Regions from separate parts of the Homo sapiens genome. Here region 2 is linked to region 1. Evidence: fine-mapped QTL for protein levels in blood plasma. A gene starts in region 1. The other region holds a variant in brackets. All regions are shown on one strand. Distances are between the middles of the regions. Region 1 holds the start of FOXO1 (forkhead box O1). Region 2 overlaps FOXO1 (forkhead box O1).

Evidence for each region. A credible set is the group of variants that fine-mapping cannot tell apart. PIP is the posterior inclusion probability: the model's chance that the variant is causal. Protein levels are from antibody-based Olink assays in UK Biobank. Linkage for the fine-mapping came from a reference panel and not from the study's own genotypes, which makes the PIPs less certain.
Region 2: its variant is the best candidate, but not a certain one, in a credible set for the plasma level of the FOXO1 protein (UK Biobank, PIP 0.54).

What each region holds. Positions count from the first base shown.
Region 1 is chr13:40,663,502-40,667,499 of GRCh38, forward strand. FOXO1 (forkhead box O1) reads right to left here and starts at 3,140. Exons shown (of 3, transcript NM_002015.4): 1 at 2,082-3,140. The coding sequence starts at 2,711. RefSeq lists silencers at 879-958, 1,259-1,768, 2,289-2,338, 2,429-2,568, 2,799-3,328 and an enhancer at 3,979-3,998.
Region 2 is chr13:40,605,622-40,614,149 of GRCh38, forward strand. All of the region lies in intron 1 of FOXO1 (forkhead box O1), which reads right to left. Among named protein-coding and RNA genes, the nearest start is that of FOXO1, 57 kb to the right of the region's middle. RefSeq lists an enhancer at 7,675-7,724. The variant A/T (reference allele first, on the strand shown) is at 4,600.

The sequences.
Region 1 (3,998 bases):
TTTGAATGCAAAAAAAGGGGGGAGGATTTTTTTTTTAAATGGCTAATACTCTGTAACAGCTGAAGTGGAATTGATAGATGAGCAAGTAAGTCAAGTACTTAAATTCAAATGTTAAGTAAAACAAGATTTGGCAGACAATTTCGATTTTGTGACTTAATAGAATATATGCTGAACTTAACGGTAAGAAGGCACTTTACTTTTTTGAAACACTTGGTAAAATTGCATGTAATGCCTGGTAATGAAGCGATAAGTGATACCTTTACTCTAAAACACACTTTGGAAAAAATAAAATGAATCTTGAATTCCTTCTAAAGGAACTTCAATAAGGTGTGAGTAACTTAACCCTTTTGACACGCATTAACCACAGGGATGACACTGTGTGTAAAATAACCTTGGTGTTAACAACTGCGCAGCAAAGACCAATCTTTATTATGCCGTGGAGTCCAATATGAGAGGCGAAGAAAGGTATGTTTTAAAAAGGTGTTTAGCTCGGCCGGGAACGGTGGCTCACGCCTGTAATCCCAGCACTTTGGGAGGCCGAGGCGGGCCGATCACGAGGTCAGGAGATCCAGAACATCCTGGCCAACATGGTGAAACCCGGTCTCTACTAAAAACACAAAAATTAGCTCGACGTGGTGGCTCGTGCCTGTAATCCCAGCTACTCGGGAGGCTGAGACAGGAGAATCGCTTGAACCAGAGAGTCGGAGGTTGCAGTGAGCCGAGATCGCGCCACGGTACTCCAGCCTGGCGACAGAGCGAGACTCCGTCTCGGAGGAGGGGAGGGAGGTGTTTAGCTCAACTAGACAGCCTTTACAGCAATTCCGCCACCGGTGACAGTGAGAAACTGTCAGCTTGGGGAGGCCGCGCCACGACTGGACCCCGCCCCCGGGAAGCCTCCCCGGAGCCGAGGGCCCCCGGGCCTTCTCCTCGGAGTCGGGAAGTGCCTGCCCCCACGCTAAGTCTCTCCTGGCCACGCTCTGAAAGGCAAAAATGGCAAAAATCCTCCTTCAAGGCACCGCTCCCTCGACGCGCACCGCCACTCCGACTCCCTCAAAACATTGGTCGCAAAGCCCCCCCGCCTGGTCCTCCATGCTCAAGAATAGGGTGGCAAGGCAGGAAAAGACTCACACATCCCAGCCCCCGGCCCCTCAGGGCAGCCTCTGTGTTTCTAACTAAAAGCCTCCTACCAGGGGCAAGACCAAGTTCGGGCGCTTCCCCGCATGGAGAAACGCTGGCCCCACGGCGCCCGGCCCCGACGCGCTGGCCCTTTAAAGGCGCGGGCTTCCTGCGCCCGGGGCCCCTCCCACGCCACCGCCACCGCCACCGCCACCGCCCGCGCCCGCCCCCGCCGAGGGTCACACTTGAACTTTAGCTCGCCCCGCGCGGCCAGGCGCCGGCGCTCCGCAGGCGGTGGCCGCCCCTTCGCACGTGTCGGAGGCACCACCTCGGGCTCGGGACGCCGGGCCCCCGGCACTCGAGGCCACTCCGGAGAAAACCAAAACAAAGCAAAATGCGCACCGCCTCCAGAAACTGCCCGGCAGGCCCTGCACCGTCCCCGGCCGGTCGCGCCCTGCCTGTCCCCTCCACCTGCAGCCCGGTCCCGGGGCAGCGAGGCTCCGGGGCCCCTCGCCGCGCCCTCCCCCGCCGCGCCCGGCGGAAACAGCTCCGCGGCGCGGCCGGAGAGAACCCGCCCTCCCCCCGCGGAGGTCCGGGAGGGAAGGGGCAGCCGAAGCAGTCGGCGCGGGCCGGGGGTTGCCGCTCCCAGCGAACCCCTTTCTCCTTTCACTGGCAAACTTTTCGGCCTCGCTCTGACGTCCACTTCTTGGCGCACTTTCTTTACTTAGTTCCCCAACGAGCCCCTTACCGCGTCCCACGCGAACTCCTGACTGGCGCGCACGCACACCTACTGCCGTCCCCGACCGGACCCGGGCGAGGCCACCGCGACCACCGCTTCTCGCCCGCCCTCCTGGGAACGCGCTGCCCTCCTGCTCCGCACCTTCAGGCCGAGCAAACCTGCACAGCTGCGCCCTCGCCTGACCCACCGCGCCCCCAAGGTCCGGCCGCGCGCCGAGTCCACTCACCTTCCAGCCCGCCGAGCTGTTGCTGTCACCCTTATCCTTGAAGTAGGGCACGCTCTTGACCATCCACTCGTAGATCTGCGACAGCGTGAGCCGCTTCTCCGCCGAGCTCTCGATGGCCTTGGTGATGAGGTCGGCGTAGGACAGGTTGCCCCACGCGTTGCGGCGGGACGAGCTGCTCTTGCGCGGCTGCCCCGCGAGCGGCCCAGCGGCGGCGGGGGGCACCGGCGGGTGCTGCGACAGCGGCCCGGGCGGCGGGGGCTGCGGTGGCGCTGGGTGCAGGCAGCCCGCCTCCGGGCCCTGGAAGTCCCCGCACAGCCCCCCGGTGGCGGCCGCGGCGGCCGCCGCCGCCACCGCCGCCGCCACGGAGCCGGGCGCCTGCGGGAAGTCCTCGCTCTCCTCCAGCAAGCTCAGGTTGCTCATGAAGTCGGCGCTGACAGCGGCAGCCGAGGCCGAGGGCAGGCCCGCCGCGGCGTCGGGGTTGGCAGCCGCGCTGCCCGACGGCGCCGGGCTGGAGGTGGCCGAGTTGGACTGGCTAAACTCCGGCCTGGGCAGCGGCCAGGTGCACGAGCGCGGCCGGGGCAGCGGCTCGAAGTCCGGGTCGATCTCCACCACCTGAGGCGCCTCGGCCATGGTGACCCCCGCCCCTCCCCCAGCCGCAGGAGAGCCAAGAGGGGGAGAACGCAGCACTGGGGGCGGACGGGGAGGGGGCGCGAAGGGACGGTCCGAGATTTGGGGGAACGAAGCCGGTGCGGCGAGCGGACGGAAACTGGGAGGAAGGCGCGGCGGAGTGGAAGCGCGAGCCCAGAACTTAACTTCGCGGGGCCATCCACATCGAGGCTCCTCGGGGTCCGCCGCACGGACTGGACGGCCGGCCAGAGCCGCCGGGCCGGGGCAGAGCCTGCGCCGCGCTCCAGCTGACAGGGCCGCGGACGGAAGGACGGACGGACGCCGCGGGCCGCTTGCTCTCCCCAGCGGCGCGCCCGCTGCGCTGCTGCCTGTTGAATGTGGCGGCTGCGGCAGCGGCTGCTGCGACTACCAGGCCGCCCGACTTACGGGATCTGCCGCCGCCCCCCGCCCGCGGCGGCGCGCGCGCCGGCCCGCCCCTGACCGACAGCCCGCGCGGCCAATGGGCATGCGGCACCGCCGCCCGGGCAGCCAGTGGGCGCCGGGCTGGGTGGGGCCCGGTTTTCCACGGGGAGGCGGCGGTGGGCTGGTGGGGGGTAGTGGGGTGTTTTTCTCTTTCACACACTCACCTCCTTTTTTTTTTTTTGGATCTCTATTATTTTCTGGTAATTCTCGAGTGTTTCTGTGATTCTCTCGCCTTCTCAGTGTTTTGATTGCTAGGAAGCAAACCAGCGTGGAGGCGCCGGCGACACTTTGTTTACTACGGAGCAGCAGAGCCGAGTACTCGGGAAGCCCGGGTGGGAGGAGGCGCTCGCTGCTCCCTGACCTCCGCTGCGGGCCGAGCCCGGCGGGCTGGCAGGGCAGGGGGCCGAGGGCCGGGGGCGCGGGGTGGGCGGGCGGAGGCGGCCGCGAGGAATTCTACTCAATCGCTCCCTCCTGGCTCCACCCACGATGTCTTTGCTGAACGACGTGGGGAATCGGTGGGTTTTGTTTTGGTTTAATGTTTTCTTTCGCTGCGATCTGTCAAGTCCTCCGGCCCCCTCGCGAGCGGCACACGCCCCCCACCCCCGGCGCCGCGGCTCCTGCAGTCGAGTCCGCGCCGAGGGACCCTTCTCCGTGCCCACCGGTCCGCACCCCCGGGCTCAGCCTGTGCCATTCGGTCTAGCCAGAGGCGCGTCACCCAGCCGGCAGCCCCCAGCCGGATTCACTGTATTCTTGACCTTTTTTAAAATGCTAGAAATGAGGAACAGGGGCTCCGGCGCGGGGAGGAGATTATCTGGCCTCCCTGAACAC
Region 2 (8,528 bases), 56 kb before region 1:
GAAATTCTACCTAAACTACAGTGCTCATCATAGGCGTGCACTCTGTTTTTTCCTGGTTCCAACCCAATGGTGACCTTTTCTAGCCCCTAAACCCCCAAGGTACTCCCTTTTCCACCTCTCTAGTCAGTTGCCAGCAGTACGTATGAATCAGTAGCTACGTAAGCCCTGAACCTGCTTGGAGGTGTGGAAAACTAGTGTGTGAAAGAAGGCCACAAATTATACCAGTAATGCTGCTGACACTAACCACTAAGAGATACCTCTTATCAGCTGACAAGTATTGAAAAGTAGTAGGTATGAGCCTAATAATCTAGAAAACGTACATCGACCAAGTAATAATGCAAATATCAACTAATCTGGGATGACAAAAAAAAAATTATAACAATAATGTAGTGGAATTTACTGAAAGGCTTGTTCTACTTAACCAAAATACTGTAGAATAACAATTTTTCCAAATGTTATCTAGCAAGATAAAGCAAATGTAAAAATTGAAGCTCAAAATAACCTCCACCACTTTAGTGACCAAGGTGGTTTTAAACCTATCAAGTTGACAGTTTTCCAAACTGAGTTTCTATCACTCTTCAACACAGACTACACCATATCTCTCTCATCACCCAGAGCTATATAGCCTAAAACGGACTACTTCAGGGACCAGCAACATGGTTGGTTGGTTTCTTTCTTTCTTTTTCTTTCTTTCTTCTTTTCTTTAGAGATGGAGTCTCACTCTGTCACCCAGGCTGGAGTGCAGTGGCGCAATCTTAGCTCACTGCAACCTCTGCCTCCTAGATTCAAGTGATTCTCCTGTCTCAGCCTCCTGAGTAGCTGGGATTACAGGCACGTGCCACCACCACACCTGGCTAATTTTTGTATTTTTAGTAGAGATGGGGTTTCACCATGTTGGCCAGGCTGGCCTCAAACTCCTGACCTCAAGTGATCCGCCCGCCTCGGCCTCCCAAAATGCCAGGATTCCAGGTGTAAGCCACCGCGCCCGGCCATGAAAAGGGGGTTTTAAGTGACAGCACAGCATGTTATTTTCTATGGTGGGGCTGGGGGAGAGGCAGGGTGCCAAAAGCGACTGAGGAGGGCTGTAAGAGTGATTGTCCATACTAGACACTACTTGCCAGATGTCAGCCCATCTCATGCCCCTCTGCTGTCCCTCCATCCTCCCCAAGTCATAGTGCAGCCTGCAGGTCCCTGCAACTCCCACATCCAACTTCCTCATTGCCATTCCTATCTCATCACATCCCTGACCCTGCTTTAAATTCCTCAGTAACTTCCTTTTTCTATCAGGTAAAGACCAAAGTCATATCATGCAATGCTCTCAGATCTAACCCTGTCTGCCTCTGAAGCTTTGTCTCACTTTGCCTTTCCCTTCAGACTTTGTAGTTAGGCCCCCAAAAAATATTGTGCCACTTCACCCTTCCCAGAAAGCTCTCTATAAGCCCGCACATCTGCCCAACTTCTCCCCACTCCTCAATCAAGACCAGACCCAGGTTTCTTCCAAGTGAGATCTCCCTATGTCTCCCACGTGGCTCTTCTATGCCTTGGTTGGGCCTCTGGTACAGAAGGCACAGTGCAATTCTGTTTACACATCTGTCTTCCAGACAAAAACCGGAGGGCGTTGCAACCATGCTTCCTCGTGCTACACCCGGAGCGCCTAGCAAAATGCTGGGGACACAGCATCAAATGTCTATGTCAATCTTGCTTGGATGAACACTCCCAATCCTCTGAAGCAGAAAGCTGTCCATCCTAGGCAATAAATATAAGCACCAGAAAAACATCATTCTTCTTGGATACACTTTCAGGCTAGGGAATTGTTCCCCTACTAATTTCCCACTTGGGGTTTCTTCCTTCAACCATTTGTTCCTAGAGTGCTTTACTATAAGTCAGGCACTGTACTAGATGGGTGGGAGGGAGGGAGGGAAATAAAGTTATCAGGGAGCTTAAAGCCTATAGGGGAGATTCTATAACCCCAAACACAGCATTCGACAGTCATTACTCCACACTATTTAGTATTGTACACATAGGTAATACATCTCTATACACTCAATGTTTTTACTTAACCCCATTTGCCTACTAAAGTCATTCTGTTGCCTTGAGCCTACACCAACACAAAGGTGAGAATGGAGGTGCCAATAAATGAAACCTGTTATCTACAGATAAGAAATCAAACCTCAATTCTAGTGGTAGAAAGAACTAAGGAGACGGGCTAGCCCAGTATCTTCATTTTACAGAACAAGGGGCCCATGACAGAAACAGGTTACATGAATTGCCTGGGGTTCCCCCAATTGGTACACTGCTGAAACAGATTTTGAACCCAGATCTCTTAAGTCTTACCTCAATTCACGTACCCTCTTTCTTGTCCCTTACCCAGCTGTTAGTAACATGTCTCTCATGGTGTGTTACATTCGGTCCAACATCCATATGAAAAACTGAACTAGTGTTTCTTGGGGCAGAGGAAATGACAAAAGCCAAAGGCAATAAGACACCACCATATAATCTCATAACCAAAAGCTACCCTCAGCTGCTAACATTTTTAGCATTTGTGGTAGGACAGAATTATTGGTCCCAATTCTTCACTCCCTGGTAATTGTATTTCTATGGCCTCTTGTCGGTAAAGTACACTTTTCTCCTTCTTGATTCAAGAGATGCTATGGCTAATGGGATGCTAGGGAATCTGATGCTGGCAGAGACTTGAAACATACTCATACAGTCAGGCTTGCCCTCTTGCACATGACACTACCATGAGAAGAACTTACCCTAGTCGCTCACCTTCCAGCCAAGGCCTCAAAGTGAGACACATGGAGTAGGCTGCTGCAGGGAATCTCATACATGTGAGCAAGAAATAAATACATACAGTTGCATGCCACTGAGACTTTTGGGGTTATTTGTTATGGAGCAAAAGCTAACTGATACAATGTGTTATCCTTCAAGTCAAAAATGCATATTTCTCCTTGTCTGTCACTAATGTAACCCCTCAGAGTATTAGCTTGTTGTTAAAGTAGCAATCACCTTATTCTTTTTCTATTTTACATTTTATTGATTTCTCCAGGCTATCTTTTTTTCAGATTCTCTTCAGAAAAGAACATTGTCTACAAATTGAAGTGTCATCTCCAAGGCTTTTCCTGATTCTTAAGGTAGGTATTATATAAGAGGGTGGCAACAAATGTTATCCTTTCAGTGTCACGTCACAAAATGCCTCCTTTTTCCTTCAAAGCAGTAAAGTAAGATTTGTCATGATCATGGTTAATTTATTAAAGATAATTTTCAGCTCATATGATGGATCCTAGAGATAGGTGGGAAGGGGGTACGTGTATCTTCACTGCAGGTACTAAAGATTTTTAAAAGCTGTTTTAAAACCTTCAGCTGAAATAAATGTTAAAATACAATGACTTTTGGTATTTTTAATGGGCCTCCAAATCAGGGTAACTTTAAACAATGACATTCAATGTAAATGTCCTTCAATTGTGCCATTTTCCCATTCCAGCACACAGCTCAATGTCATTAAAACTACTCAAATTTAATTAATTATCGTTATCATTTGTAATTTTTGAAGCTCAGTAGACCTGAAATAAAATTACGTTTGGATGACAAAACATATTATGCAATAAAGTCATCTGGAGGGTAGAATACCAAACTGGGAGCCTACTGCTTCTTTTTTCTTCTGCTTGCCATGACAAGGTTAATTTGTTTGCTTTCTTTATTCTTCCTTCTGTTTTACAAAGGAGAGGCATACACTTACTTTGGAAAGGATGTAATTTTTTATATCAGTCTACACTGTATTAATATGCCTAGAATGTGTATAGAATTATGCATGAGTATTTGTAAATGTAAGTCTGTTTACTCAAAACCATAGAAAATACAGGTTTCAGTGCATCCTTCTTTTGATGTCAAAGGAGTATGTGATTTTCTCAGGAAAATGAAGGCTAATTTCTTCAATTCTGGACTGTAGATAATTAGGATTGACTATAAAAACAAGAGTTAAACATGTCTTCCTATTTTTGAACCAAGGCCAGTAGAATAGCACTGTCTTCAAGGAAAACTTTATTTGCATATATTCAAACTCACGCCTAAAGAAATTCTTCAGGGTGGGGGGGAAAAAAATTCCTCAAGGCCCAGGATTTTAACCTGGAGCCCATGGACAGAACTCAAGGGATTCATGACCTTGGATAGGAAAAAACACATTTTTATGAGCCGCTCATTAAAATTCAGCATTTTTTCCAATTACGAATGTAGGCAACACATCACAGTATTGGCAGTACCTGTGACTTTGACACCAATAGAAATCGGATGCCTTCACATTACAGTTGCTGTCAAAAACTCAAAATATTGTTTATTCATCTCCACCTCAAAATTATGGTGACCCGCCACTAAATATTATTTAATGTATTGATAAAGAAGCACATCTATTACCCTACGACAATTTTCACAACTGTATTCGACGTAACTGCTTTCCTTTGCAATCACATGTAATTTAATATTATGTACCCTGCGACACTGAGGACACGCTGCATCCACCTGCCACACCCTCACTCCTCAGCTGCCCGTTTTTATTAACTAAGGACATCCGGGGTGCTTTTTGTGGAAGCATGAGCATACTGT[A/T]CTGAGGGAAGGGAGAGGAGATAACAACCTATTTATATATGTCTATAACAGTGAAATTTTAAAAAATGGTAATTATGATGAGGCATCTGTCTATTTGGCACCATCTAAAACCAGCAAGCAATAATTGTACAACAAGGGGGTGTTTAGTGTGTGAGGTTTAGGACATTGTGCCAGAAAACCTAAAGCATCCAAGTTGTAAAACATTGTAATAAGCAGGTAATCCTAGGCCCAGCGTCCAAGTTTCTGCCCTAACCTGTTCCTTATGATTATGATTTTAAAACATCCCAGTGTCAGCAGGTTCACTGTGAGTCAGACCTGAAATAATAAATGGCTTATTTTCCATCCTGATGGAGGAAATACATCATGGCTCATTGTGGCTCACTTAACTGAGGCTGTTTTTACAGGAAAATATAAAAATAACTAAGTCATTCTGCCTTACCATTTTTATTTTAAATTTTTTTATTAACAAAGCTCTATACTACAATCCATTTTAAAAAGAAAAAGCATGTTTCAATATAGGCTATAAAAACAATAGCTCACAAATATCTAGAAGGAAAAATAATATAAACTCAGAAAATTATGCTTGTAACCAACGAATACCCTGCTTTGCCAGGATAACCAATTAAATGCATTCACTACATCAAGATAAACTGCTGCTTATTTAAATGGTCAACCACATGGTAATGCTGTTAAAAGACAGCCAAAATCTTCTACCAGTATTCATTAAGGTTGCCAGGCCTTAAAAACCACATGTATCTATACACATACATCTACATAAATTCCAGAATGCAAAGTCTTACTTGTTGCAAACTCTCAACTGAACGTGAGGAGAAAAGTTGTATCTTCATCAAAAATAAATGCTTATTCAGTGGCATCAATACTGCACATAGGCTGTAAAACTCATCGTGACTGAGGATAAAATGAGTGAGCAATATATTCTCAGAACAATGAGTTTTGTTCTACCCTGTTACATAAACAAGTTCTATGTGACCTCACGGCTTTTAGATATGATTTATGACACCATGTCAGAATGCAATCTTATTTGTTACCCAAAACTGTGCTAGAGTGCTACCCCTATGGTGGGTTCAGACATTATTTAAAACAAACAAACAAATAAACAAACTTAAGACAGCACCACTGTAACCAATACAAGGTTACTAGGTACACACAGTGTGTATTTCAGGATATGACCAATAAATTTAGAATCATATATAAGGTCCTCAGTGTGTAATACAAATTTGAAGATAAAAATATTCATCGCTTCTGCTGATTTCGTACATTAAAACAGTTACGCCATAATTCTATCCCATCTCCTTGAAACAGTGATGCAGAGGGGAACCCTGCTAGAGGGGTTCACGTGGACTTAAATGCCCATTCCCTCCTCACCTGACTCTTCTTGTGCCCCTAAACATGGATGGCATGATAGGGAAAGAACACATCTAAAACACACGGAAGCTGTGTTTGGGAGAGAGGACGGTGCTCAGCACTCTCTCACGAGCCCTGTTATTTCCCTCCTCCCATCACAGCTACAGTACTGTCAACAGTAAAATGTAAAAACCCTAAAACCTAGGCTGGGCACAGTGGCTCACGCCTGTAAATCCCAGCACAGTGGGAGGCCAAGTTGAGTGGATCACTTGAGCCCAGGAGTTCAAAACTACCCTGGGCAACATGGCAAAACCCCGTCTCTACTGAAAATACAAAAAATGAGCCATGTGTGGTGGTGCATGCCTTTAGTCTCAGCCACTGAGGAGGCTGAGGTGGGAGGTTTGTTTGAGCCCAGGAGGCGGGGGTTGAGCCAAGATCACGCCACTGCACTCCAGCGTGGGAGACACAGTGAGACCCTGTCTCAATAAATAAATAAACAAACAAATAAAAATAAAAATAAAAACTCTACTAGAGGGCTAGGTTTTGCCCTGCCTTTTTACAGGCCTACTGAAAACAAGGTCAGTAGACTGAAAGGGCCAGCAGAAAACACAATGACTCAAGGGTTACAGTTATCCATCTTCCATTTATCAGCTGTCATGCCATAGAGACCTTGGATCTCCCCAACAAAATCCAGGCTTCCCCACCTCTCCTACAGGGTTCTAGAAAGCTCAAATGGACAGAGCACAGCAGGCAGACAGTATATCACAGACACAGCTACGAAGATAAAGTGCCATGTATGATGGCAAAAATGTTACAGGGTCTCCATGAAATTATCAGGATGACACCTCAGGTTTTTAACCTAAGAAAACAGAAGAGACTTGTGTGTGTGTTACACATATGTACGTATACACACACGTGCGTTCGCAAGCATGCCTAAGGAGATTTCTTTCAAAAAGAAGGCTGGCCCAACAATTTCAGTGGCCAAGAAATTTTATCATCCCAGGCACAACATTTCTTGTTTGCTTGATGTCAATTCCATGTACAGTAGTCCTTCCCTGAGCTTTCACTTTCCACCTTTTTGAGTTACCTGCAGTACAACACAGTAAGATATTTTGAGAGAGAGAGAAACCACATTCATCTATCTTTTATTACATTATACTGTTATTATTGGTCTGTTTTATTATTAGTTATTGTTGTTAATCTCTTACTCTGCCTAATGTATAACTATCATAGGTATGTAGGTATAGGGAAAAACGTAGTATACACAGGGTCTGATACTATCCAGTTTCAGGCACTCACTGTGGGTCCTGGAACTATCTCCCTCCTATAAAGGAGGACTACTGTGTATCGGTTTATCTACAATTTTAATGGCAACGTTTTAAAAGAGGAATGACCCACAAACTCCACTTTCCCTGCCCTCGTATTCCTTTCACCAGCAAGACAGAGGTGAAGAATTAAACTTTAATCAGCCACAATTTGAAGAAGGCTGTAAGATGATCTCCAGTATTTGAACCTTGAAATCTGGGTAAAAAAGAACACCTCATGCCTGTAAACCCCATCTCTCCATCAGGATTATCACTTGGTCAATAAGAGATAGCAAAGTCAAAAGTGTCCTCTTTTTGGAGGTGGTGTGTGTGTTGGAGGGCAGGGTCTCTGTAAGAACAGCTATAAGTAAAAGAGATATGGTGAAAGGTCACTAGTCTGTCATCTCTCTCTTCCTGAGGCACATAAGGATGTGACATAGTTACATGTGGTTTGCAAGAGGGCTCCTCCCTTTACAATCTGCTTCTCCGACACCCCTAATCTAATCAATTTTTATTTTCAGTTTGGTGTTTAAAAAAAAAAAAGTTACCACACAGAAAGGACTTTAAGTCTGAAATGTTAATCACATCAAAGTCTGGAACTTCAAAGTTGCAGTTCCCACACCAAGAGCAGCTCCGGTCCCCATCTGCAGTTTGAGTGTTAATCTAGATGGTAGTTTCTCTGATTTAAGACCTTGTTTTATGTGTACAGGGAGTGTGGCCAAGTCACAGGCACTACGAATTTGAATTTCCTGACTCTCACTTGGTTTAGTGGATGATTACGGCGTCAGCATGTGCATTTGAAACAGGTCCCCAAAGAGGAAGCACATTCAGGTCACTTGAACAAACACAAGCGTGAGCCACACCAGAGCCCTCCAGCTGACTGCCTAGCAGCAGTTACACGGTCTCCCATCAGGACCCTGTGACCAGAACTACCAGGCAGCTTTCATGGAACTGAAGTTGGATCCTCACGGCTGGTACCATTAAATGGCTTGTTTTTCTAAGAACCTGTGAAGAGCTTTAACAGACAGAAGAAAGTAAATCAGACCTCTCCTTAAAAAGAAAAAATAAAGGGTGAAAAAACTAGCACTCAACCCGGTATTTTAACTACTGGCAGTTGCCTTTCTTCTACCATGCAACACAGTGGTTTCCAAAGGTATTTTCCAGAAGTTCTGGTTCCTGATTTCAGTGGCTACTCTATTTCAGGAATAAGGACAAAACTCAATACAGAGACAAATGTTGGAAAAGTCCCAGGGAACTAAC